Linked DNA regions of Homo sapiens. The protein of the gene in region 2 interacts with the protein of the main gene of each other region in a pairwise test. Each region holds a gene or a part of one and is shown on either strand. Other genes may lie near its edges.

Region 1 (6,832 bases), on a different chromosome or scaffold from region 2:
CCTCAGCCTCCTGAAGTGCTATGATTACAGGTGTGAGCCACCGCCCTGGCCACTCCTGGAAATCTCATACTGACTGCATCATCACCTCCTTTGGATGCCTGTCTAAACCAAGGCCCCTCACAACTCCAAGCAGAACAGATCACTCACCCTCTTATACTTCTGTCATTGTTGTACCCATATTATTGCACTATGTTGTAATTATTCGTTTATAGGTCTATTTCCCCTATTAGTCTGTGAGCTCCTTAAAGGCAGTGGTTAGGATTATCTGTCTTTCAGGAGTGAAACATTTCTTGTAAAATAACTAACTTGAAGGACAACATTCCTTAGATGATAAATTCTGCCATGTTACTGAAAGAGAAAAAAGGGATCATTACTTTATACTTTTCTATTACCAGCCAGGACTTCGGCCTACTACCTTTAGCATCTGAGTGTGAATTAATTTACCAGAATGGTGGACATTTTAGAAGGCCAAGGAGCCAGATTTGTGGGACTCACTGGAAACTTTACAAGGGAAAGAGATATGGAAAACAAATGTCTTCACTTAAACAGTTTTGCCCAGGCTCAGCCCCTTTGGGAGTAAAATCTGTGTCATGTGCCCTTTCAAAGTTGCACAGGCCTGTGAATAGGATCAATTTATTCATTTCAGAGGGTCCACCAGATAACAGGCCTATCCTGGAGAGGTCCTGGATTTCGGCTGAAACAAGCAACTATAATTGGAAATGTGTACAAAGAGCAATGAGGAGGCCACCGAGGGGTGGGAGGAATTAATTCTGCCTGGAGGAGTGGAAGGGGTCCAGGAAGGAGAGGGTGAGCCAAACCTTGCTGAGTGAGTCGGATCTGGCCCAGTGGAGACGTTGGGGGAGGAGTGAGCAGAGCAATCTGCTAGATGAAAATCTACACGTGCGCGTAGGGACGACAGTCTCTGCACTCCTCTTCCGCCCACTTTCCTCCCTTTCCTCGCAATCGTTTCCCCTTTTCTTGGAAAACTAGGACTGAGGATACTGTTTCCCTTCACGGAGGAGACCAGCACAGATAAAAGAATATTAATCCTTTTTATCACGAGATCAGTTCCTCTGGTCTGTCTTTGAGAGCACTGGGGATGGGGAGAGCAGGTGAGTCAGGCACAGAAGTGGTCCTTCTTTGAGTGAGCCAAGGGGACACAGGGGAGAACAGGTCCCATGCAGGAAACAAATGAAAATTTTTGTATTTGTCCCCACTCCCTTTTTGTCACCACTCCCCCCCCCCCACACACACACCTGTCTCTTTATGTTTTTCTATAGTTTCCCATGGTCTCCGTCTTTGTCTTTGCCTCTTTCCCTTTGCTACAGGCTGGAAATTCCTTGTTCTCAACGGAAGGGAGTAGGAGGGGAGTTGGGGGTGGCAGGAGTGGGCGGGAAGAACAGACATCTCGGCAGCTCTGGCTGCGGGCTGCGGGGGCGCTCTGGGCCTCTGGCGGGCCCTGACAAGTCAATGATTTTTTAAATAGGGGCTCATACACAAACCTAGAGAGAGAGAGGAACACAGATATACAAGTGGATATAAAGAAACATATAAATACATAATCTCGGGTACAGAGACACAAACTGGCAGTAGCGTCTTAAATATGCTTAGCATTCTACAATTTAGAGAGTTTTCCCGTACATTCTCTCATCCGAATCTCACGACAATCTTGAGAAACAAGGGCACAAAGACACAAACACCCGGTAGTTTCACTCTCACACACGGGTTCGCACCCGGACCCCCGCTGGCTCCCCTAGGGGAGTGGGCAGGCCCCTTCTGCGGAATTTCTCTTCCCTCGTCCCTCTCTGGCCGAGCACCCCCTCTCCCAGGACCCGGGAGCGGAGAGCTCAAAATCGGCTCCTCCCTCCCCCTCTTTCCCGGATCAGGACCGGGACCCGGGCGCCCCGCGCCCAGTAGGTTGCCGCTCACTTGCTCACGCCCTACTCCGCCTCCTCCTTGGGCGGGCGTCTCCCTCCAGATCCTAAGGCTCAGCGCCGCCCCAAGGGGGCCGGGGTGGGAGGGAGGGGGGCGCCTCGAGCAGAGGCTGCGTGGGCGGAGGATGTGCGTCACGGGGAGCGTGGGCTGGGGGAGGGAGGGGGCACGTGGAAACCCGGGGCCAGCGGCTGGCAGCCCGGGATCCAAAATAACCTGAGGTGGGGGGGGAGGGGTCGCCCACACCCCGTACGGGGTCGGGAGCGTCCCCAGGGGAGCCCGTCTAGCCGCACCCTCCAGTTGCGGGGCGGGGGACTGGGAGACGGGACTCTGCTCGTTCCCACCACCCCCACTGTGTTTGGCGCTTAATAGGTTGGAGAAGAGGACCTGAGCAACTGAAATCCTCCCACCAACAACGCGCTCCTTCTCCCCGGACCCCACAAGGCGGAAAGGTCTCCTCGCTAGGCCACATTGTAAAACCAGCCCCGGTCCACGGCCTCCACGCCCCGCCATGCCCCACCCCAGCCCCTCAGAAGTGCGGACAGAGAGGCGGGGCGGGGCTGAGATTCCGGACTAGGGGAAACCTCACCTGTGGCCAGTCCGCTCGCTTTCCCCGGCCCCCACCCCCCCTCCTTTCCCTGGGGCTTAGAGTCTATGGGCCGGGCCCTTAGAGCCCCCGCCTCCCCCAACAGCCCTCCCAGCCGTGGGCGGGAGTGCAATGCGAACCAGATGGGGCTAGGAGAAACCAAAGGGGGAGACGGTGGTGGGTTGCAGAGGCGGGGGCTAAGCTCCTTCAAGGCGCTCCTCCTTCCAGCTCCGCCGCAGGAAGTCACGTCGTAGGCTCCCGACCTCTTACTCATCTTCCACTAGACTCTCGGGCGAGGTCCCTAATAGACGGCCCCAGGAAGGGTATCGTCTTTGTCACACAAAATTCCCAGGCAGGGCCTCATCCTCAGCAAACAGAGGACAAGTGGAGGAATCCCTGCCTGACCTACGCGCTGACAAAAGCCGACGCGTCTAATCAACACGCGCACCTAAGTGGTGGCGTGCAGCATAACCCTCCCATTCCTGTTTCCCAAACTTTCCAGGCTAGCATGGAGGCCTGGGTTTCTGAGAGCGACCCCCTCAGATTATTCCATTGGGGCTGAGGAGGGGCGCGGGGATATCTAGGAGATCCCTGCAGAGCCCCACGCTCTCAGGCCCGCCTTAAGTGCACACTATACGGGAGTCAGATGCACGCACAGGAGAAGCCGCACAGCCCAGCCTTCGCTAACTTTTCCCGGCTCACTGCTAACATTCACACGTCCAGCACCACAAGGCCTGAGTATGGGCAACGGGCGTCCCCGTAGTTGTTTAGGCGCGTGTGCACGTCCGTGCGCTTCTGTGTCTTTGTGTACTTGTGCGTGGTTGTGAAACTCCTCTCTCAGCTCGGAGGGGTGGGGGAGAGAAGGAATGTCGCCGGCGGGGCGCTCACGTGGGTACGTGGGCGCCAAGAGGGCCGGCTGTGCATCCGGCGTGGGCGGCACAGAACGACCTCGCCCCGCCCGCTGGGTCCCCAAGCCCGCCCTGCACAGCCGGGCCTCGGTCACCTCGGTCCCCAATTCGGCGCCCCGGCTCTGAATCCCCGCCCCCGCCTCCTGCTCCACACCCCCTCCCCCCCCGTCTCCGCCTCTCCCAGTCTCTAAGCCGCGGCGTCTCCGCGGCCGAGAGGCCCCAGCGCCCGCCTCCCCGGCCCCCGCCCCCACCCCCGCCCCCGGCTCTGCCCACGCCCTCCGCCCGCCAGCCCGGCAGCCAGCGCAGCTCCGGGCCTCGCTCCCTGTGCGTCCTGCGGGGGCGGAGGCGCGGAGAGGCGGCAAGCGCAGCCGGGGAGGGTGGGGGGGCAGAGGCACAGACAGAGGCGCGGAGGCTCGGAGAGAGAAGACGTGGAGGGAGGGACAGAGCCTGGACAGCGGTGGACACGGCATCGTGCGCGGGGAAGAGGGCAGCACGCAGCAGGCGCCGAGCGCCGGGCACCGAGAAGGGCAGCCCGGGTGATCTCCGGCCGTCCATGCACAGAGCGCCTTCCCCCACAGCCGAGCAGCCGCCGGGCGGAGGGGACAGCGCCCGCCGGACCCTGCAGCCCAGACTCAAGTTAGTGGGCAAAGGGAGGCAGCGGGGAGTGGAGATGGGTGGAGCTGGACTTGGGAATGGGGTCCAGAGGGCGGAGGTCGAGGGGAGGACGTGGGGAAGCAGGACGGGGGTGGGGGGTGGAGACTGATGGAAAAGGGGGTGCGTCTTCGAATTAGGGGGCCCTGGGAGCAGGCAAGCATCTGATGAAGCTGGATATGAAAGAGTAGTACCCAAATCTCCATTCCTGGTTTACTCTGTGGGCTCCATCTGGCCTAAGAGCCCCCTGCAAAGAATGTGGGAGCCTCCAAGCACCAGGGGATGCCCTGGAGCTCGAGCTGGCATCAGTGCGGAAGGTGGGGGGACGCTCAGTTGCCTCAGTCCCTCGTTGGCACGGAGCGCGCGGGCCCCCGGTGCCTTTGAGTTAAAGGAGCATCAGCGGGGGAAAGGGGGGGTGACGAGGGAGGCAGGGAGGCCTTAGGCGTTCCTTCCCATATCTGTCCCTTTATTCACAGAGCGGGGAGGGGAGTTTCAGTGTGCAGCCCCTTCATCAAGAGGCCTTGAGCCGCTCCCCCACTCCACTTGAAGATGCGGGTGGAAAATATGGGAGAGGAGAGTAGGCGGGAGCCCCTGGGCGGTTTTCGCCTACAGACGCTACCACTGTGGGAGTGTGTGTGGGCGGAACGGCCCCGGAGCAGAACAATTGCGCCCCTCCCCCTGCCACGGCCCCTGAGCTGAAGGAAAAGGCTGACCGAGGAAGTGGGGAGTGTCACTGCTAGGAGAGGGGCCACTGAGGAGCACTGGGCAGCCTGGAAGGGTGGAGAGGTTCTGAGGGGAGAGAGGAAGCGTGCGTTAAGAATGCTTAACCAGGCCGGGCGGGCCCGGTGGCTCAGGCCTGTAATCCCAGCACTTTGGGAGGCTGAGGCGGGTGGATCACGAGGTCAGGAATTCGAGCCCAGCCTGACCAACATGGTGAAACCCCGTTTCTACTAAAAATACAAAAATTAGCCGGGCATGGTGGCGGGCGCCTGTAATCTCAGCTACTCAGGAGGCTGAGGCAGGAGAATCGCTTGAACCCGGGAGGCGGAGGTTGCAGTGACAGCGCCACTGCACTCCAGCCTGGGTGACAGAGCGAGACTCCGTCTCAAATAAATAAATAAATAAATAAATAAATAAATGCTTAACCCCTGGGAAAAGCTGAGCGGAGAAGAGTAAGGCACCACCTGGCTCACTGAGTGGGAAAGCCAGGGAAGGTGCCACACCCTCCCTTTTAGCCACCTGGGGCTGTGGCCCCTTCACAGGGAATGAAGCTGGCCAGCAGCGTCCACTGTGGGGGAGACTGGGCTCCTACATTCACTTTAGTATGGGTGACTTCACTTCAGTGTTGAGACTGCTGAGTGTTTAGAGGGGAAGGTGAGGATTGTGTTTTGGGGGAGAGGGAGGTCCAGCCATCCCAGGTCGGTGCTGGTCAGCCTCAGCGCTCAAGTTCTTCTTGCCCCAGACCAAAAAGATAAAAGCTGAAGATAAGGTTGTAAGACGCTTCGACTCCTACAGACACAGGCCACTGACTTTTGGGGCTTCGGGCCAGTCTAGGACGGCACTGGCTTGTCCATGCCTCTGAGCAGTGCCTGATTCTGAGAGTCTGTACTCAGACCTGGGCACTGGGCAGGATAGCATCCAAATGAGGGAGGGGAAGAAAAGCAGGCAGGAAAGAGGGAACAATTGTTAGTGTGGGTTGGTACCCAGTAGGGGGACTTGCACCGACTGCCTCTCTCTTGTGCCCCTCCTTCTCAGGCCCAGTGCCCGAGCCATGGCACTGCCTCGGACGCTGGGGGAGCTGCAGCTGTACCGGGTCCTGCAGCGCGCCAACCTCCTTTCCTACTATGAGACCTTCATCCAGCAGGGAGGGGACGACGTGCAGCAGCTGTGTGAGGCGGGTGAGGAGGAGTTTCTGGAGATCATGGCACTTGTGGGCATGGCCACCAAGCCCCTCCATGTCCGGCGCCTGCAGAAGGCACTGAGAGAGTGGGCCACCAATCCAGGGCTCTTCAGTCAACCAGTGCCTGCTGTTCCCGTCTCCAGCATCCCGCTCTTCAAGATCTCTGAGACTGCGGGTACCCGGAAAGGGAGCATGAGCAATGGGCATGGCAGCCCAGGGGAAAAGGCAGGCAGTGCCCGCAGTTTTAGCCCCAAGAGCCCCCTTGAACTTGGAGAGAAGCTATCACCACTGCCTGGGGGACCTGGGGCAGGGGACCCCCGGATCTGGCCAGGCCGGAGCACTCCAGAGTCGGACGTTGGGGCAGGAGGAGAAGAGGAGGCTGGCTCGCCCCCCTTCTCCCCCCCTGCAGGGGGAGGAGTCCCTGAGGGGACTGGGGCTGGGGGGCTGGCAGCAGGTGGGACTGGGGGTGGTCCAGACCGACTGGAGCCAGAGATGGTACGCATGGTGGTGGAAAGTGTGGAGAGGATCTTCCGGAGCTTCCCAAGGGGGGATGCTGGGGAGGTCACATCCCTGCTAAAGCTGAATAAGAAGCTGGCACGGAGCGTTGGGCACATCTTTGAGATGGATGATAATGACAGCCAGAAGGAAGAGGAGATCCGCAAATACAGCATCATCTATGGCCGTTTCGACTCTAAGCGGCGGGAGGGCAAGCAGCTCAGCCTGCACGAGGTGAGAACCCCCAGGCCTCCTAGGATTGCCCTTGACTTCCAGGTCTCCAGCCGCTTACCTCTGCGAGTTTCTACAGTCTCCGACTATCTTTCATTATCTCTTGACCAGGACCCCAGGCCCTGATCC
Region 2 (7,027 bases):
TGATTAATAAAATATAGCTTCCCCCCGGAAAAGATGCCCTTTCCTCTTTTAAAATGAATATTAAAGAGATTTCCAACTACCAGATATTTTCATAACTGATATACAAAACAAGGTTTTTAAACAGGTTGTTTTTTCTCATATTAAATATTGGTGACATAAAATGGTACCATCTGCAAGACAAACTATTAACACTTGGAAAGAACACTTTTCTAACTCTAAAATGGATTCTATGTGGGGGGAAAAAGCAGTTTTAAAGGCACGATTTAAAATGTGAAATCCTTCTGAAGATATGCAATTTATTGGTCTTTTGCAGTTTATTGGCAGTGATCTTTTACAGAACAAAAATGCAAAATGTAAGAAAGTAAAGTATCATAAAGCAGAATCCCAAAATGGAAATGTAACATACAAAACTGATACACCAGAAATATTGTGAAATACGGATGTCACATTGCTTGGACTTTTTTTTTTTTTTTTTTTTTTTTGAGACGGAGTTTTGCTCTTGTTGCCCAGGCTGGAGTACAATGGCATGACCTCAGCTCAGTGCAGCCTCCGCCTCCAGGGTTCAAGCGATTCTCCTTCCTCAGCCTCCCAGGTAGCTGGGATCACAGGTGCCCACCACCATGCCTGGCTAACTTTTTGCATTTTTAGTAGAGATGGGGTCTCACCATATTGGCCAGGCTGGTTGCGAACTCCTGACCTCAGGTGATTGACCCGCCTTGGCCTCCCAAAGTGCTGGGATTACAGGTGTGAGCCACTGCGCCCGGCTGCTTGGACACTTTTTTTAACCACTTGTTAAAGAAATACATTAAAATGAAAATGTTTTGATGCCATTCAAATACTGTTACTTAAAAACTCTGGTTTTTAAGAAGGATATAATATAATACCAGAGAAATCTGCTTTGAATCTTGGAAGGCTTTTTCACCCTAAAGCAACTGCCTTTTGAATAAGCATCATAAAAAAATGCAGTGTAAGATGATTCACAAATAGTGCAAAATAAGGCAATAGTCTTCCATCATTTTGTCAGGGTTTCCTAATAAGGTTAAGTTCTCTTTCAACACCCCCCTTAGTCAAAGGCAGTTTTTGGTTTCTTTGGTAATACGTACAAATTGCTTCATTCCACATCTGTCATTTCTAGTCCATCACTTTCTTTGACATATACCACTGAACCCAAGGCTTTCCCAGAAAGAGATCCTGTGCCAGTCCCTTCAATCCTTGTAAAGTTTTCTTGATTTGTGTCTTCTAATCTTATTTTCTTGGTGTTTTGAAATAACTGAGTCGCTGGTTCCAACCTGCTTTTTTCAGTCCCTCGTATTAAGTGATCATCCACTTTTGAATCCATATGTATAGCAGATACCTGAGTAGCAGATTTACTAAGTGAAAATCCCATTAGGATAGCTGAACAAATGTGAAAGTAATTTGCAGGTACCTTTTTAAGTAGTGGAAGTGTTTCTTCAACTTGATTACTGAAAAAAAAAAAAAAAGTAACAAGTGAATGCAGCAGGAATTTCCCTAACTTCATGGCAATGTTTGTTTGAATGAAAAGCTGTGGTGATACTAGAAATATAAAGTAAAATTGCCTCCTACCTTTCAGTGTTTACATTTTCTTTGTGGGAGGGTTTGCAGGTTCTAAAGATTTATTTGAAAGTCTTTTTAAAAGGAAATTTATCTGATTGTATGTTTTATCACCTTTCAGAAAATAGTAGAGCTTCTCTTAGTCCTTTCTTTCATTCTTGCTAGCGAAACCTCTTTATTCATTACTAATGGGCTAAAGAAATAACGACTGAAGGCCAAGTACTCTGCTAGTACTTTATTTTCTGTAAAAAATAAAGATGTCCTATAAAGATACTTGTGATTGGCTGGGTGCGGTGGCCCACGCCTGTAATCCCAGCACTTTGGGGGCCGAGGCGGGTGGATCACCAAAGGTTAGGATTGAGAGACCAGCCTGGCCAACATGGTGAAACCCCATCTCTGCTAAAAATACAAAAATTAGCTGGGTGTGGTGGCATGCACCTGAAATCCCAGCTATTCAGGAGGCTGAGGCAAGAGAATAGCTTGAACCTGGAAGACGGAGGTTGCAGTGAGCCAATATTGCACCACTGCACTCCAGCCTGGGCGACAAGAGCGAGACTCTGTCTTAAAAAAAAAAAAAAAAAAAAAAAAGATACTTGTGATTAAGGATGTCTAGTCTGTAAAAAGAGATGATCGGCCGAGCGCAGTGGCTCACACCTGTAATCCCAGCACTTTGGGAGGCTGAGGTGGGTGGATCACGAGGTCAGGAGATCGAGACCATCCTGGCTAATATGGTGAAACCCCATCTGTATTAAAAATACCAAGAATTAGCCGGGCGTGGTGGCGGGCACCTGTAGTCCCAGCTACTCGGGAGGCTGAGGCAGAAGAATGGTGTGAACCCGGGAGGCTGAGGTTGCAGTGAGCCGAGATCGCGCCACTGCACTCCAGCCTGGGCGACAGAGCGAGACTCCGTCTTAAAAAAAAAAAAAAAAAAGATGATCATGTAGCATGGAGGGAGGCCTTGGGAAGTTTCCCAAAGGAGGGGAGCCTAGGTTAGGGTTTCGCTTTCAAAGATGGGCAGGAATTTGGTAGGCAGAGTTGACCAGGATGGCAGAAGGGACAGGCTTCCTGTACAGAAAAGGTTTGAGAAAGCCCAGGGCTTACTGGAGAAGAGTGATCTACCCAAGATGCTATAGTAGCAACCTGAGATCTGGAGCAGATTCCACAGCTTCGATCGAAATCCCTCACCCATTTTTTTTTTTTTTTTGAGATGGAGTTTCACCCTTTCACCCAGGCTGGAGTGAAGTGGTGCGATCTCGGCTCACTGGACCTCCACCCGGCAGGTTAAAGTGATTTTCCTGCCTCAGCCTCCTGAGTAGCTGGGATTACAGGTGCCCGCCACCAGGCCCAGCTAATGTTTGTATTTTTATTTTTATTTTTATTTATTTTTTTTCCAGTCTATATTTTATTTATTGTGGTAAAATATATATAACATTTACCATTTTAAACACTTTTAAGTGTACAATTCAATGACATTGAGTACATTTACATTTTTGTGCAAACATCATGGTCATCCATCTCCAGAACTTTTAATCATCCCAAACAGAAACTCTAACGTTTGTATTTTTAGTAGAGACGGGGTTTCCCCATGTTGACCAGGCTGGTCTTGAACCCCTGACCTCAGGTGATCCACCCACCTCAGCTCCCAAAGTGCTAGGATTACAAGCATGAGCCACTGCGCTCAGCCTCACCCACTTTTTAGAATGTATTATGTCTTTAATATTTACCTACTGTGGTATCTTTGATAGTTTACAATTTCATACTCATCAAGCTGTAATTACTGACTGAACATTTCTAAAGAATCATCTTGAAACCCTGTTTATCCATATTTGTGACTGAATATCAGTGTTTATAACAAAACAGAGTCCTGGGTCTACTGTAGTAGCCTAAATATAGTACTTACTCAAATATTAATATAACAATTAGGTAAATAGTATATATTTGGCTTTCTGGGACTCAAATACAACTTAGCTAAATTTTTTAATATCTCTGATGAAATTCTGAAATATGGGTATATTTGATTTTTAGATTTGGAACTTGAAGATGAATTTTTCTTCCTCATCAAAGGAATATCTAATACTGCCTTCAAATGAATAAAATTGAGTTTATTCTATTTGGTTTCTCTTTTTCTTAGAAAGGAAATACTCCTGTCAAATGCATAACTTGAATCTAAACATGAGGAAACAATCAGATAAACCCAAACAGAAGTATCTTCTATGAAACAAATAGCTTCTACCTAAAAATGTCAATGTTATGAAAGACACAGAGAGGCTGAGGAACTGTTTCAGATTAAAGGAGGCTAAAGATACATTATTTCAGATGCAACCAATGCTCTTGAATTGGGAAGGGGATGGAATGTACTACAAAGATCATTACTTAGATAACTGAAACATTTGGATATGGGACAATATTAGATAATAATATTGGATCAATGTGATAAATGCCATGAATATGATAATTGTATTGTGGTTATATAAGTCAATGTCCTTGTTCTTAGGAAATACATACTGAAATAGTTAGGGGTGAAGAATTGTATCTGCAACTTGCCCTCAAATTGTTTAGCAATAGATAGATAGATACATAGATACAGAAAGACAGTAAAATATGCAAAATGCTAACAACTGTTAAATCTAGGAGGTAAAGCTTAAAAAGTTGTTCTACATATTATTATTATTACATTTCTGTAGGTTTAAAACTTTTTCAAAATACAAAATTGAAAAAACGTTTTAAAAAACACAAAACTCTAAAACATGGCATTTGAAATCAACAAACGTAAAAGAATGGTAACATATAATTATCAATTTGCACATTAAACTTCAATCTAATAAAAGGACTGAGGAGGAACCAAGTATAATAGGGTAGACTTGGCCCTGTGAGTCTTACCTTAACTTCCCCAGAGTTGAGGACATGAAGGGTGAACAAGTCTATTGGGGGCCTCTTTGGACTGGCATTTAGGTTGCCATTCAAGAAGAAATCTGGAATATATATGTAAGAATAAAGGTACATAAAGAGATAAATCAATCTGGAGAAAAAGAACAAAGTGGCTTTCTTTACTAGATATTAAGATAGGCTACGCGGCTGGGCACAATGGCTCACGCCTGTAATTCCAGCACTTTGGGAGGCCAAGGTGGAAAGATCTCTTGAGTCCAGCAGTTTGAGACCAGCCTGGGCAACATAGGGAGACCTCATCCCTATCAGAAAAAAATTAAAAAAAACAAAAAGATATGCCACAAAGTGAAAGTAATAAAAATAACCTTGTACAGGTACAGGAACAAATAATCAGTAGAATATGACAGAGCTGTAACTTGGACTTAGGTATTTCAGGAACTTCACATATATCACAGGTGGCACTATAAGACAAAGGAGATAGAACAGACTAAGTTTAGTATGATGGTATCGTGAACATTGGCTAACTATGTGGACATAAGCAGGATCTTAAACACAGAAGTAGGCTGGGCGCGGTGGCTCACGCCTGTAATCCTAGCCCTTTGGGAGGCTGAGGTGGGCGGATCACGAGGTCAGGAGTTCGAGACCAGCCTGATCAACATGGTGAAACTCTGTCTCTACTAAAAATACAAAAATTAGCCAGGTGTGGTGGCGGGTGCCTGTAATTCCAGCTACTCAGGAGGCTGAGGCAGGAGAATCGCTTGAACCCAGGGGGTGGAGGTTGCAGTGAGCTGAGATCATACCATTGCACTCCAGCCTGGGCGACAGAGCAAGACTCCGTCTCAAAAAGAAAAAAAAGTGGAGTGCAAATGCATTAAAGACCTAAATGTGAATGGCAGAACTGTAAATGCAATAGAAGAAAATATCTGTTACCTTGGAGTGAAGAAAGATTTCTTGAACAAGACTAAAAAGCTTAAACAATAAGGGAGGAAAACAGTGAGTTTGATTACTCATAATTGAGAATTTCTATTCAATGAAAAAAATATAAACAAAAAGATAGATAAGAGACTGGAAGGAGATATTTTCTGTGTCCAAAGCTGATGGTATTTAATGGCTGGAATAAAAAGAGAACACCTAGAAATTAGCAAGGAAAAAGAAAACCCAATAGAAAAATGGGCAAAGGATATAAAAACATAATTCACAGATTGAGGAATCCCAAACAGATAATTAACTAGGAATCAGAGAAATTCAAGTTGCAAAGAAATTGCAACCTCCGCCTTTCTGGGTTCACATGATTCTCCTGCTGAGGCCTCCCGAGTAGCTGGGATTACAGGCACCTGCCACCATGCCCGGCTAATTTTTGTATTTTTAGTAGAGACGATGTTTCGCCATGTTGGCCAGGCTGGTCTCGAATTCCTGACCTCAAGTGATCTGCCCTCCTTGGCCTCCTAAAGTGCTTGGATTACAGCATGAGCCACCGTACCTGGCCACATCTGGCTAATTTTTAAAATTCATTTTTTTTGTAGAGACAGGGTGTCACTGTGTTGCCCAGGCTGGTCTCGAATGCCTGTACTCAAGCAATCCTCCCACTTCCCAAAGTGCTGGGATTACTGGCGTAAGCCACCATGCCTGGACTGGTTTGAACCTTTTATAACAAAACCCAGATCACAGCAGTCCTCTGCTCAACACACTCTAGTTGCTTCCCATATCAGAGAAAAAAATTATCTACATATCTGGTCCCCAGCTGTGGTAGGCAGAATAATAGTCTTCAAAGATGTCTTTGTCCTAATCCCCAGAAGCTGGGACTATGTTATGTTATGTGGCAAGGGGGAATTAAGGTTGCTAATCAGCTGACTCTGAGGGTGGGAAAATTCTCCTGGATTAATTGGGTGGTACTAATGTAATCACAAGGGTCTTTTTTTTTTTTCTTTTTGGGACAGAGTCTCACTCTGTTGCCCAGGTTGGAGTGCAGTGGTGTGATCTAGGGTGACTGCAGCCTCCGCCTCCTGGGTTCAAGTGATTCTCGTGCCTCAGCTCCCAAGTAGCTGGGATTACAGGTGCCTGCCACCACGATCAGTTAATTTTTGTATTTTTGGGGAGAGACAGGGTTTTGCCATGTTGAACAGGCTGGTCTTGAACTCCTGACCTCAAGTGATCCACCTGCCTTGGCCTCCCAAAATGCTGGGATTATAGGTGTGAGTCACCGCACCTGCCACACAAGAGTCTTTAGAAGTGAAAGAGGGAGGTAGAATGTGTTAGCCATGATGCAATGTGAGGAGGACTTGACTGGCCATTTTTGGCGTTGAATATAGACTGGGATCACAAGCCAAGGAACATGGGCTGCCAGTAGAAGCTGGAAAGGCAAGAAAGGGGATTTTCCCCTAGAGCCTCCAGAAGGAATGTAGACCTGCCTGACATCTTGATTTTAGCCCAGTGAGACCCAATTTGAACTTGTAAATCTCCAGAACCGTGTGATAATAAATTTGTGTTGCTTAAAGACACCAAGTGTGTGGTAAATTGTTGCACAGCCGTAGCAAACAACTCTACTAGCAAGCACTCTCTCCTGTCTCTT
Region 3 (6,978 bases), on a different chromosome or scaffold from region 2:
CATGATGTAAATGTCATCATCTCCATTTCACAATCAGCAAATTGAGGCTCAGAGTCAAGTCACTCAGAGTTGTATGTCTAATGAGCAGAAGCAGGATTTGAACCCACATCCCTCGGGTCCAGGATCTATGGGTGTAACCCCTGTACTCCTCCATCACCACAGTGAATCCACAGTGACAAGGGCTAAAAATACTTCCTACAATTTTTACAGTTAAAACAATTTCAGCCACTCCTGAAAATATTGCCAGAGGTATGGAAGGAAGAGCAGAGCCTTCCTTTGCCTCATAGAAGAGGCACCTGAAGAGGTGCCAACTGCCTAGGGCTTGGGAGAGCTCAAACAAAGTTTCCCTGCCCTCAGGCAGCTGGGACTTGTAGACTCCCTGGAATATCCCACAATGAGCGCCAACCTGTTCTTTTTCTTCCTGAGCCACGGTTAGCACATTTCCCTTAGGTACAGGTAACACAAGTGGCCAAGGGCAATGCAGGCTGTGGCTCTAAGAACCTGGCAGCTGCCTTAAGCACCACGTCTGTCCTGGGTGAGAATGGGATGTTGGCATGATGATCATCAGATGATCACACAAGACACGTCAGCAGGTGACAAGCCTTGGTGTCACTCTATGTCTCCTCATGCCTCTGCCTTTGTCCATGCAGTTCCCTTTGCCGGGAAGGTTCCCCAAAGACCCCTTCATTCCAATGTCCACCTGCTAGAGAGAGGCCTGCACCTTCCCCTTGCAAAGTGTACTTCAGCTGTCGCCCCCAGGGATCTCCAATCCACTGTGGGTGAAATATTGGTTAAAAATGTAAGCTTCTGGCTGGGCACGTCGGCTCATGCCAGTAAGTACTTTGAGAGGCCAAAGTGGGAAGACTGTTTGAGTTCAGGAGTTCGAGGCCAGCCTGGGCAACACAGTGAGCCCATCTCTACAAAAAATAAAAAAAATTAGCTGGGTGTGGTGGCACACACCGATAATCCTAGCTACTCAGGAGGCTCAGTGGGGAGGATTGCTAGTGAGCTGCGATGGGGCCACTGCACTCCAGTGTGAGCAACAGAGCTAGACCCTCTTTCAAAAAAAATAAATAAATAAAAAATGTAGGCTTTTATGCTCGACATACTGGATTGTTTCTGTTACTTATGAGCTATGCAACCTTGGGTAGTTAATCTGAGTCTCCGGTTCCTCTTCTGTAAAGAAAGGAAAATGAAAGAATTTTACTCTGAGAAGAAGGGCGTTAAATAAGGTAATACACAGAAACTGCCTCTCAGCACATTATCAATGCGCTCAGTGAAGACCAGCTACTATTTGTTGCTGTTAGTATTTTTCCTATTTGCTCCTGTCGCACCCTAGGAGAGCTCAATGCAGCACACATCCAGGAGCAGCCTTGCAGAGATCTGGCGACAATGTGACAGAGAAAATCGTCCAATGAGCTTGGCATGTGCAGGAGAGAAGAATGGCAGGGGGAGTGTCCTGGTGGATTGGGCAGTGACTTTGCAGCCATGGTGGGGTATGGGGTGGGGTTGGGTTAGATGAAATCTAAGTAGGATGGGAGCCCCAGAGGATAGAATCTCATTCATTAATCACTTATCGACTAAGTGGTACAGGCCCAGAACAGAATAGTTTTGGGCCTGGGGATGAAAAACAGAACAGAAGCTGACATTCTGGGGTTGGGGGACAGATCCTCAGCAATAAACAATCAAGATAAAGTCAGAAGACTCTAGAAAACAACACAAGAGTGAGAAGACCACAAAGACTGGGAGAGACTTTACATGATGCAACCAGGGAAGCTCTCTCTGAAGAGACCCTGGAACAAGGTTAGATTGAAGTTAGAGAACAGACCAGGTGAGGAAAAATGAATAGACAACTCCTGAAGGTGATCAGAGCTACGAGGAGTAAACAGTGTGACATGCTGGAGAGTAACTTGGGGCCTTATGTGCTCACACTCCAAGAGACATACATTCATGTACACTGTCATTAATGAATATTGTGCTGGATTTGCTTTTCAAATACAAGAGCATGTGTTAAACAGAAGCACGGATTCACTGCTGTTAGGCGGCAAGCCAGATTCATTTGTAATAAACAGACGGCATCTGCAAAGATAAATCCAATGAGCTTCTTGTCTTCTAGCCTCCTGCCAAAAATGCTGCTCCCGCCTCACCTCTTGCCCTCGAGGCTCTCATTCCCTCTCCCAGCTTTTGGTAGGGCCAGACTTCCGCTGGAATGATCCCCTAAAACAACAGCAGGACCTAGAGAGTCCTTCTTCAAAGACGGCACCTAGAGTGATGCTCTCCGAGCAGTGAAAGACAGGACCCACGTCACAAGCGTACCCTCTCCAGCTCCCTCCACAGAGAAAATTACTGAGACTCGCATTTTAGACCCGAGGGAATGGAGGCCGAGGGCAGCGAGGCGACAGCTCCAGGTTAGAGCCAGAGACAGGGACCTCTCCTTACAACTCCTGTCCTGGATTCAGGACCCTGGGTAGGAAGTGATTAGCCCTGCCCTCTCACCTCACCCTCTCCCGGGATCTCCATAACCTAGGGCATCAAAAGGGAGAAGCACAGAGTCCCGGCATCCGCCGTATTACAGCGGATGGGTGCATGCGGGCGGTGACCCGAGCTCGCGCGGGCTGCGGAACCCTCCACTCACCAACGCCGGCGCCGCCATGGGCCCAGGGGGCTGGGTGAGGCCGTGAGAGTCGGCGAGGAAGCCGGTCCTGCGGGCTCGGCCGACCCCGGGCTCCGGCTCTGGGCTGCGAGGGACCTCAGTCCCCGCCGTCGTGTAAAATGCACACAAGGTTCGCGGCGCCGCCTCTGCGCGCCGTGAGGACACAGGGCTGTCGCCAAGGCCCCAGGAAGGGTTTTGCAGACGCTTGTGGGGGTGGGATCGCGGCTGACATAAAAGCGTGTAAGTGGGTCCTATCCTCCTCACTGTCCGTCTCTACTCGGTCTCGAAAAGTGGCCCCTGTCTGGCGTTCTACCCAGTGTAGCGTTGGCAACCACAGCAGCCGCAACCTAACGGCGGACGAAGACTGGACGCCGGAAGTCCCGCCCACGCCGCTACGGGAACGCCCCTCTGCGCCTTCCGTCTATGGCTTGGGGTCGGCTTCCGTCCCTTGTAGCACTGCCTTCTGGGTAATGTAGTTTGACGGAATCCGGGTGGTACCTGGAGCGCACTTTCTGTTCTCGGTGAGGCGGCTTCTCAAGGCTCCCAAGAAAGGGATTGGCTTCACCTCTTCTTAAAGGAGAGGCACACAGAGTTCCGTGGAAATTATCTGAGGCAATGACCCACTCTCAAATGTCTCTACCAGGCAACTCACGCCTTGACTTTCCTCCCTGTGTATCCCTGCGCCAGCAGTTCATCTCTCTGAGCCTTGAGATGGAGATTCCTAAGGAAAATGAAGATAATTATTTAATATGATAATATTAAAATTTCCCCTATCAGTAATTTTCAGATGACATCAGCATTACCTGCGAATTTGTTACCAATGCAAGTTCTTAGTCCCCACCCACTGAATCAGGTACTCTGGGGGGTGGGACCCAGCCCTCTGCTTAACTTGTCCAGGAAAAGTGGATGCTGCAAAACATTTGAGAACCAGACTCTTTAAATTCCAGTAAATAAATGAGACAAAGCCACCTGTTTGGTGGGAAGTAACTAAGAATTGCTTAGCACTGGGCCTGGAACATACCGATAAGAACATAAGAGCTATTGCTGTCATTATTAATATTCTGTATTATTGGCAACATCATCACAATACACTGCTAGGGGAGGGTCTGAGATACTTCTTTGCAGACTCTGATATTTGTCAAAACAAATACGTTGACTGATTCAACAGGAGCCTCATGAATACTGTTTAAATTTTACATAATAATACGTTGCAGCATTTGGCGTATGCATCTTTTTAAAACGGTATATGCAGGAGGGTTTCCTAATATACAGGTAGACCTATTGCCCAAGGGATACTTTCTTACATGATTCAAAACTTAGGATCACTGAGACTAATTACCTGCAGCCCTAAGGGAAGAGTGGAGTTGACATGGTTTCTAGTTTGTGATGTAAGATGGCGTGTCACTGTTCATCTCTAATTCACAGCAACCAGGATCTGACCCCTCCCCATCTGCCCCTCCAGCCCCCAGGGAAGCCAGAACCAGGCACAAACCAGATGGCCCAGCTTATGCCCAGCAACTCAGGGTCACCAGATCTTGTCTCATCAAGACACTTTCAGCCCACCACCCAAACCTGTAGCCCACATGAAGAGGGCAATAATCCTGGACACTGTGAAAAGTAAAAGCATTACATCCAAAGAGGCATCCCCAGGATGGAGCAGAAATAAGAAAACATAATGAAGACACAATTTTGCAATCACTTCTGCCTATATTCCATGGCCTACAAACCACTCAAATAGCTCCACATGTAAGAGAAGCCAGGATGTGCTGTCCTCCAGAGCATCCAGAAAGAGATAATGGGACTGATAAGTCCTTGGCCATTTTCTAGTAAAATCTATTAATTTAGTCATCAGATTTCCATTCTATTATTTATCCTATACATTCTACACTCTCACATGCTTCTTAATGCGAGAAGCCAAAATCTGCATGCAGTCTCTGACCTCATCTGAATGTTAAGATCTCAGGGTGATATGTTATGCATCTAGTCCAGATTTTGGGTGGGGATGCAGCCAAACCATATAATATTATGGGGCCTGTTGGGAGGTGACTGGATCGTGAGGGTAGATTTCTCATGAATGATTTGATGCCATCCCCTTGGTGCTATTCTTGAGATAATGAGTTTTCTCAAGATCTGACTGTTTAAAAGTGTGTGGCATCTTCCCCTCACTCTCTCTTGCTCCTGCTCTCACCATGTGCTACACTGGCTCCCCCTTTGCCTTGCACCATGATTGGAAGCTTCCTGAGGCCTCACCAGAAATTGAGCAGATGCTAGTGCTATGCTTCCTGTACAGCCTGCAGAACTGTGAGCCAAGTAAACCTCTTTTCTTTGTAAATTACCCAGTCTGGGGTATTCCTTCGTAAATTACCCAGTCTCAGGTTTTCCTTTACAGCAAAGCAAGAACAACCTAACACATTTACCAACTTATGAATGGATAAACAAAATGTGATATATCCTTATAACAGATTATTCAGCCATAAGAAAAGACTGCAGTGCTGATATACAATACAGCATGGAGGAACACTGAAAACATGTAAGTGAAAAAATCAGCTACAAAATAACCACACAGTATATAATTCCATGTATATGAAGTGTGCAGGATAGGCAACTCTATAGAGGTTGAAGGTAGATTAGTGATTGCTTAGGGATGGTGGGTAGTGGTGGGACAGCCGATTGATATCTAAGGGATATGGAGTTTCTTTGTGAAGTGATGAAATGTTTTAAGAATAACTGTGGGGGATAGTTGCACATATATTTAAATATGTTAAAACCACTGAATTATGTATTTTGAACGTGTGATTTATATGGTAAGTGAATTATATCTCATGAAGGCTTTTTAAACAAAACAACACTGCTGTAACTTAGACCAAACCAAAGTTTGTGTCAAATCCTGCTATGTAATATTTGTTACATTTTATAGTCTAAAATCTAAGCTTTATTTATGAGGATACTCACTTCATTGCTGAGGTGTGTCAACAAAACATATTAGTAAATTTATACGAACAAAATATTAGACCTATTACTGCGAAAATACAAAACTTGGAAATAGGAAAATTTCTTTAAAAAGAATCCTATTTAGAGTCAAGGGAAGTTATGAAACACATCAAGGAAATGAGTAGTTGCTAAATATTGAGTTAATATGTTATACATTCCTTCTCAGTGATTACAGAATACTTATATCAAATGAAATTAGATGAAATATATATTTGAAAGGTAAACATCCAAAGTAGAATAAATTTATCATTTTGTATCCTAAGTAATAGAATTTCTTTGTTGCATTTACTTTCAATCAACAAAATAGGTAAGTGCTTTATTGCTACTACTTTGATTTATTTCAAAACCTCTTTGTACAATGTACAAAATGTAAATGTAACTTTAATGTAAATTGTTTTTATATAAATTGTGACTCAAAATATTTGGACAGACAAGTTGTGTGAGATGGGCTTTAGGCAATCATGCAATCCTAACTCATATTTCATACAGAATTCATATATTTTATTTACACATATTCACTTCACACAAGACTAGGGCTAAATTTAAGTTAATGGGTTTGATTATTATTTTCCCACATTAAATAACAACACTATTTATATACACCTCAGGGATATTCCCAGAATTTTAAACATGGGCTTGCGATTCTTCAGCTCTTGAATCAAACAAAAATGTTCTGGAGTTTTATAAACTAATTAGCAAGGCAGCGGCTGTTTCTATTGAATAATTCACTGCTATTTCTGTGATTCTAATAAATGATTGCAAAAACAGGAAATCACAACTAACCAAATTCCTCACATTATTAGTGAGGAATTAGTGGAGCCCCAAAGTGGGGCTCAGACTGTGAGGGTTCTTGGCTTCACCCAGGGAAGGATTCAAGGGCAAGCCAGTGGTAGAAGAAAACAGTTTTATTGAATAGGCAGTGTTACAGCTCTGTGACTGCCTCTGCAGAGCAGGGCTACCCCATCGGCAGAGAGTAGCAGCTCAGGGCAGTTTTGCAGTCATATTTATACCCACTTTTAATTACATGCAGATTAAGGGGCGGTTTATGCAGAAATTTCTGTGGAAGGGGTAGTAACTTTTGGGTCATAGGGTCACTGCCATGGAAAGGGGTAGTAACAGCCAGGTGTTGCCATGGCAATGGTAAACTGACATGGCACACTGGTGGGTGTGTCTTATGGAAAGTTGCTTCCACCTCATCCCTGTTTTAGATAGTCCTCAATTTGGTCCAATGTCTGACCATGCCTCTGGAGTTGAGTCTTGCCTCCTATCTTAAAACGATAAAAGCATTATGAGGAAATTGTCAAGCCCAAGGGTGAGGTGAAGAATTCTTAGAT
Region 4 (6,865 bases), on a different chromosome or scaffold from region 2:
TCTCCTGCTGCCACAGCAGGTTTTCAGTGGGACTTTTTTACAGGATATAAGATGTGATTTCAGTGTTTTTTTTTGTTTTGTTTTGTTTTTTGTCCTCAGTACTCCACTTCCGGACTCCTGGACTGCATTAGGAAGACCTCTTTCCCTGTCCCAATCCCCAGGTGCGCACGCTCCTGTTACCCTTTCTCTTCCCTGTTCTTGTAACATTCTTGTGCTTTGACTCCTTCTCCATCTTTTCTACCTGACCCTGGTGTGGAAACTGCATAGTGAATATCCCCAACCCCAATGGGCATTGACTGTAGAATACCCTAGAGTTCCTGTAGTGTCCTACATTAAAAATATAATGTCTCTCTCTATTCCTCAACAATAAAGGATTTTTGCATATGAATGATGTGGTGTGTGTGTTTACTTGTTTGGTTGGTGGGTTTTTCTGTTCCTTGACTCCTCCAGCTACATGGTAAATACACACATACTTATGATACACACACTTCATATTTAAATGTAAATAACTTTACATATCTTTTTGTATATATCTATTTCCTGAACAGTGCCTTACACAGTGCTTTGCACGATGAGTATCAGATTTATTTAGTGATTAAAATAAATACACGAATTTGGAAGATGGTTTCTAACACACAAAGATTTTTACAGACCAGTTTTAGATAAAGAAAAAACAGGCCGGGCCCGGTGGCTCACGCCTGTAATCCCAGCACTTTGGGAGGCCGAGGCGGGTGGATCACGAGGTCAGGAGGTCGAGACCAGCCTGACCAACATGGTGAAACCCCTTCTCTACTAAAAATACAAAAATTAGCCAGGCATGGTGGCGCATGCCTGTAATTCCAGCTACTTGGGAGGCTGAGGCAGGAGAATCGTTTGAACCCAGGAGGCAGGGGTTGCAGTGAGCCGAGATCACGCCACTGCACTCCAGCCTGGGCAACAAGAGCAAAAAACTCCGTCTCAAAACAAAACAAACAAACAAAAAAAACAATAAAAAAAGAAAAAGAAAAAGAAAAAAAATATTCAGAATGACTTGTATTACTAGGATGGGTCTGGGAGATATTCATTCCTGAATCTGACCCTACTTAATTAGAGAAGGAGGTGGGGATCAAGGCTGTCCGGAGACCCAGCCACAGAGGAGGACAAATCTATGACCCTATACAATTTTTTTGTCTCCAAATGCTGAGCCTGGGTTCTGTGACAGATCCTGGGGATGAAATGATGACTCATACACAGAGTTTACAGTTTAGCAGGGCTGTGGACAAGCAAACAGAACTTGATCCAGCTAGGATGGGATGTGGACAGGGAAGTTACTACCGAGGCCAAGAAAGAGAGGAGCAGATATCTTCACCGTTAACTGGCTGCCTTAGTTATTATAAAGGGAAAACATTTATCTCCCACTCCTCTCTAAAGTGCCTGTTACCAGCTCCTGCAGCTCTGACTTAACAGTCCCCAGAATGTGTAAGGCACTTACATGTGGTATGCATGGGTATGGATGTCTTTTACTAATCTATGATGTCAACTATCACCCGCCATCCTAAGGGGGGTTCTGTACCCTAATGGAACAGCCAGTGAAATCCTCAGGCTCCTTATCTTAGCGTGGTACAGGGGCCTTTGTTATGCCCCTGAATTGCACTGATAAAACATCAACACATAGATTTCCCAAGGCAGTGTAAGGACAGGGCCACAGAGCCAGAGGCCACTTCCTGCAGTCCTTTCATTCTAGTGAAAATTCTATCTTCCTACAGCCTGACTTGGGGCCACTTTGGAATGACAGCTGTATAGTGGGGGGCGGGGAAAGGAGGGAATACTCACCCTAGTATTACTTATGTCAGCTTTATAGCCAGAGGTCAAAGAATGCCCCCACCCCAGAGCCTAGACCCTTTTTCCAGTGAGTCATCTCTTTGACTTTTCAAAATTATCTATCTATAGGGCTTAAAACTGGGGACACTTTTGCAGAGTCTAGGGGCTTTCTCTGGGTCATGAAAGCTACAAGAGTTGGTTCTGCTCAGACTTGGTGGGAGTTAGGCTTATAGGCTGAGATGAGACAATTGCTTTGCAAGTAGGAACATTAAGTGCAGAAAGATTGCTCTCTAGTGGGACTGACAAAAATTGCAGTACTGGGGACTCCAGAAAAAAATGAAGACAAATGTTAAGTTAGATTCCTGTGTTTGTACTTGAAGAATGTGTGAAGGGATCCTGACCCTCCCTTTCCTGTTGTAAAACAGTTGATGCCTAAAGAGATCTGGTCCACAAGACCTTGACTAAATTCCTGGCCCTTTCTTCTCCATTTAACTTTGTATATGTTTGTTATTGTGACTATATGGTGATTTACTTTAAAAAGACTTCAGTATAAGTGGTATATACTTTCACCTGCGTCTTTTGGATGATTTGTTTTCATGTGAAGTTTATTGGGGTCAACCCTCCAGAGATGGCTGGGGCAGTTGGTTAGAAAGACTGTATAGGCCCAGGCCCTTGCAAGCCCAGCAGCCCTCTGTCTCCAGAGTCATGCTGGAGGTCTGGACCTGCTGGCTGTGTGATATTCCACTTTAGGGAGACTCAGTCACCTTGCACAACTGTGAGAGCTGGGCCTGCCACTGAAACATTGTGTCAACCTCTAAGTGACCCTTTCACTAGATGGTAAAGTGAGATGCCTCATCCCCAAACTATAAGAACAGTTCTATGGCTGTTTTTGTATCTCCTGGCTAACAAATGTTACATGTTTGGCAGCATTTGGTATAGTGCTTGCTTTCAGTATAGTCTGCCACCAGTTAATGAGGTTGTGGAAAGGAGGACACACAATCTCCCAAATTCATCAAGAGAATGGACAATTGCTGAATGGCCAAACTGGCTTAGATCTGTTGGCAACATTCAGTGTGTCCCTTCCTTTCCACTTATCCATCAAGGAATTACTGAATCCTACCATGCGCCTGTCCTGGGAGTTTGTCCTTGGCTGCAAGCTATTTTCAGGCAGTGACTGGGATGGGATGGGAGAGAGGATGAAACTGAAGGGTCTTGGAGCCTAAGAGCTTCCTCTGTACTGAGGGAGGGAGGGCGACATGACGAAGACTTCTAATGTCTTTGGTGGTGGTGGGTGGGGCAGGCAGTGTAGGTGGTTTTCGTTTGATGACAATTCTTGGGCAGAAGCATTTGAAAAGATGATTTGGGAGAAGGGTGGGGAGGAAGAGTGATCGAGTTCTACACAGAGTTGGGGAGGGCAGGCTTCAGGAAGCAGGCCTGGGGTGCCAAAGTACAGTGAGATCCGGTGACTTTCTTCATTTGGCCACCTAGATGGAAGGAGGGACAGCAGTGGATTATCAGAAGGGTCCAGTAGTAGCGGTCTAGCCCTCAAGTGCTCCTTCATTCATTCAAGCAGGCTTAATGTATTAAGCACTTATTGTGCCAGGAAGTGTGGTAAGGGTCAGTGTGGACCTGCGGCCGTGTGCAAAGCCACAGATCCCTGCCTTCAGGAAGCCCACAGCCTAGTGGAGGAGATATATAGTAATCAAACAATCTTACAACATTTTGTAAAATGCCCATAGTAGATGTTCTGAGGAGAAGCTTTTGGAACTGTGAGCGTAGAACAGGGGAGGTGAAGAGAGTTTGGATAGGGTTTTTCACTCTTCAGGCACCAAGTCCCGCGCACAGTGGATGGGCGCTTAGAAAAAGCCAGCCTGGGGACTTGGAAGCCCCTGCACCCCTCGCGCAGGTCCTGGACCCGGCCCCGCCGTGGGGGGGCGCTGCCTCCTCCCGGGCGGCGGGGGGCGCTGCGGCCGGGCGGCGGGGGGCGCTGCCTCCTCCGGGACGGCGGGGGGCGCTGCGGGCCGGGCGGCGGGGGCGGCCCGGGCCGTCGCGGCGAGCCGCGCGGCGGATGGAGAGTCTGGCCGCGGCCGGCGGCGCCGCCTCCTCGTCGGGCCGGGCACGGCGGGCCGGGGCCTTTGTGTGAAGCGGCGGCGGCGATGGTGCTCGGGGCGCCGCAGAGCCGGGTAAGCGCGGCCAGGCCGAGGGCTGCCCCTGGCCGAAGCCCGACCTTCGGCCCGGCATTTATCTCGCTCTTGCTGGGGTCCCTCTTGCCCGCTCCCTTCGGCCGGACCCATCCTCCCCGCCCGCGCGCCGACCCCGGCCGGCCCCGCCGCCCCTCGCTTGGCCCCTTATTCAGCCCCATGCCCCCAACAGGCTCACCCGGGTGAGCCCCGCGCTGTTTGTGGAGGGACTGAGGCGCTCGTTGCCTCCAGAGGGAGCGCCCCAGCCGATGCAGCGCCCTTCCCTCCCAGATGCGACTCCGGAGGGGAGACCGCGGCGCCCGGGGATTGTTGGGGTGTCCTTGGAAGTTCCCAGCTTCCCCCTCTCCCACCCTCTCCTCTGGCTGCCCAGTGCTCCGACCCGCCCATCGTTCAGGGGTGGCCACCAGGGCCCGGGAGATGCTTGGCCGGTACCCCACAATACTTAGACGCTTCCTGGGCCCCAGAAAAAGTTGGGAGTTGTTAGAATCTGGAGAGATGGAGAAAGGGGCTGTGTTGGGCAGAGTTGTGAGACTGAACAGGGATGCAAGTAGCTCTTCTTCCTTAGTCGTGCAGGAGTCAGAAAGGGCAGAAAGTGGTAGTGAACAAGCCTCTAGGAGTCTTACCTGTATAATTAGAAGTCTTTCTTGCGGCATCAAGTAAATCTGTTAGTGCAGGGACAACAAAATATAAACCCCGAAAAGGGTGGCGAAAAAGAATACAACATATTAAAGTAATATTAAATACTACCACAGTTGTGTTCTACTTTTCTTACTGTGCATTCTGAGTGTTTTAACTTCACAGAATACAGGGACTGTGATAAAGCAATATCTGGAGGGGCTCTGGGTTATCGAAAGGCCAGAGAGCGGGTATGTAGTATAGGCAGAGAGAGATGGGGATTCAAGAACGTGAGATTTATTTGGAGATTATTGAGAGGTTGAAGACACAGCAATGACAAAGCTAAAAAACGGAACCACCTTATATGTTCCTCAGTAGCTAGTGGAGCTTTGATAGTTGTGTTCAAGCATGTGCATGGTATTTGGCATCATGAGGGAAAAGAATATGCTCAATGAATTAGGAAAGCTTGTATTTGGGAGGAAATTAATAGGAGAAAAATTTGATCCAGTGGCTCTGGTAATGAAGTATAAGATTGTGTCCAAGGGAATGCCTCTGGTTCGTCTCTAGGCACCAGCTTAAAACCAAGCTATCAGATTGTCATCAGTCGTTTTGGTTTTTGTCATAACTCTTTGAGTATATACAGGGGGAGATGTCATTGCCTTGTCATAATGGAGGAACTCTCCATGCCAGTTTACTCCTGATCCCTACCTGGGGCTTGGAAGCATTCAGAGTGATGGTATTTTCTCCTGCATAGCCCCTCTTTTGCACGGATGTGTTTGGCCATCCATCTTTTTCTCTTGCTATCCACAGATTAACTGTGCTGATAAGGAGGTAATTTCATAGGAGCTGCTAAGATGGGCATGAGGATCAAACTGCAAAGCACCAACCACCCCAACAACCTGCTGAAGGAACTCAACAAGTGCCGGCTCTCAGAGACCATGTGCGACGTCACCATTGTGGTGGGGAGCCGCTCCTTCCCGGCCCACAAGGCTGTGCTGGCCTGTGCAGCTGGCTACTTCCAGAACCTCTTCCTGAATACTGGGCTTGATGCTGCCAGGACCTATGTGGTGGACTTCATCACCCCTGCCAACTTTGAGAAGGTTCTGAGCTTTGTCTACACTTCAGAACTCTTCACAGACCTGATCAATGTTGGGGTCATCTACGAGGTAGCTGAGCGTCTGGGTATGGAGGACCTCCTCCAGGCCTGTCACTCTACCTTTCCTGATCTGGAGAGCACTGCCAGGGCCAAGCCCCTGACCAGCACCAGTGAGAGCCACTCTGGTACCCTGAGTTGTCCTTCGGCAGAACCTGCCCATCCCCTTGGAGAACTCCGAGGTGGTGGGGACTACCTTGGTGCTGATAGAAACTATGTGTTGCCCAGTGATGCTGGAGGGAGCTATAAAGAGGAAGAGAAGAATGTTGCCAGTGACGCTAACCATAGCCTGCATCTGCCGCAACCGCCCCCACCACCGCCAAAGACAGAAGACCATGACACCCCTGCTCCCTTCACGTCCATTCCTAGCATGATGACCCAGCCACTCCTAGGCACTGTCAGCACGGGCATCCAGACCAGCACGAGCTCCTGCCAGCCATACAAAGTTCAAAGCAATGGAGACTTCAGTAAAAACAGCTTCCTCACCCCTGACAATGCAGTAGACATTACCACTGGGACCAACTCCTGTCTGAGCAATAGTGAGCACTCCAAAGATCCTGGCTTTGGGCAGATGGATGAGCTCCAGCTCGAGGACCTGGGGGATGATGACTTGCAGTTTGAAGACCCTGCTGAGGATATAGGCACAACTGAGGAGGTGATTGAGCTGAGTGATGACAGTGAGGATGAGTTGGCTTTTGGAGAGAATGACAATCGGGAGAATAAGGCCATGCCCTGCCAGGTGTGCAAGAAAGTTCTAGAGCCCAACATTCAACTGATCCGGCAGCATGCTCGGGACCATGTGGACCTGCTGACGGGCAACTGCAAGGTCTGCGAGACCCACTTCCAGGACCGAAACTCCCGGGTAACTCATGTCCTGTCCCACATTGGTATTTTCCTTTTCTCCTGCGACATGTGTGAAACTAAGTTCTTTACCCAGTGGCAGCTGACCCTTCACCGACGGGATGGAATATTTGAGAACAACATCATTGTCCACCCCAACGATCCCCTGCCAGGGAAGCTGGGTCTCTTTTCAGGGGCAGCCTCCCCAGAGCTGAAATGCGCTGCCTGTGGGAAAGTATTGGCCAAAGATTTCCAT

What was found.
Region 1: the proteins of TSGA10 (region 2) and NAB2 interact in binary tests that used the Homo sapiens proteins (3 or more experiments, as listed by UniProt).
Region 3: the proteins of TSGA10 (region 2) and ZNF599 interact in binary tests that used the Homo sapiens proteins (3 or more experiments, as listed by UniProt).
Region 4: the proteins of TSGA10 (region 2) and ZBTB39 interact in binary tests that used the Homo sapiens proteins (3 or more experiments, as listed by UniProt).

The regions. Positions count from the first base shown.
Region 1 is NC_000012.12:57,085,293-57,092,124, forward strand, and holds the start of NAB2 (NGFI-A-binding protein 2), read left to right. Parts: upstream 1-3,821; 5' UTR 3,822-3,979; coding exon 3,980-4,062; intron 4,063-5,832; coding exon 5,833-6,706; intron 6,707-6,832. Other genes in the region: NEMP1 (nuclear envelope integral membrane protein 1), read right to left, coding at 2,522-2,792. UniProt on the Homo sapiens protein: Acts as a transcriptional repressor for zinc finger transcription factors EGR1 and EGR2. Isoform 2 lacks repression ability.
Region 2 is NC_000002.12:99,144,919-99,151,945, reverse strand, and holds part of TSGA10 (testis-specific gene 10 protein), read left to right. Parts: intron 1-276; exon of another isoform or gene 277-1,111; coding exon of another isoform or gene 1,112-1,387; exon of another isoform or gene 1,388-1,463; intron 1,464-3,597; exon of another isoform or gene 3,598-3,682; intron 3,683-4,452; exon of another isoform or gene 4,453-4,544; intron 4,545-4,823; exon of another isoform or gene 4,824-4,919; intron 4,920-7,027. Other genes in the region: uncharacterized protein C2orf15, read right to left, coding at 1,112-1,387. UniProt on the Homo sapiens protein: Plays a role in spermatogenesis. When overexpressed, prevents nuclear localization of HIF1A.
Region 3 is NC_000019.10:34,770,189-34,777,166, forward strand, and holds the start of ZNF599 (zinc finger protein 599), read right to left. Parts: upstream 3,028-6,978; 5' UTR 2,654-3,027; coding exon 2,636-2,653; intron 1-2,635. UniProt on the Homo sapiens protein: May be involved in transcriptional regulation.
Region 4 is NC_000012.12:57,003,523-57,010,387, reverse strand, and holds the start of ZBTB39 (zinc finger and BTB domain-containing protein 39), read left to right. Parts: upstream 1-3,841; 5' UTR 3,842-3,983; intron 3,984-5,426; 5' UTR 5,427-5,470; coding exon 5,471-6,865. UniProt on the Homo sapiens protein: May be involved in transcriptional regulation.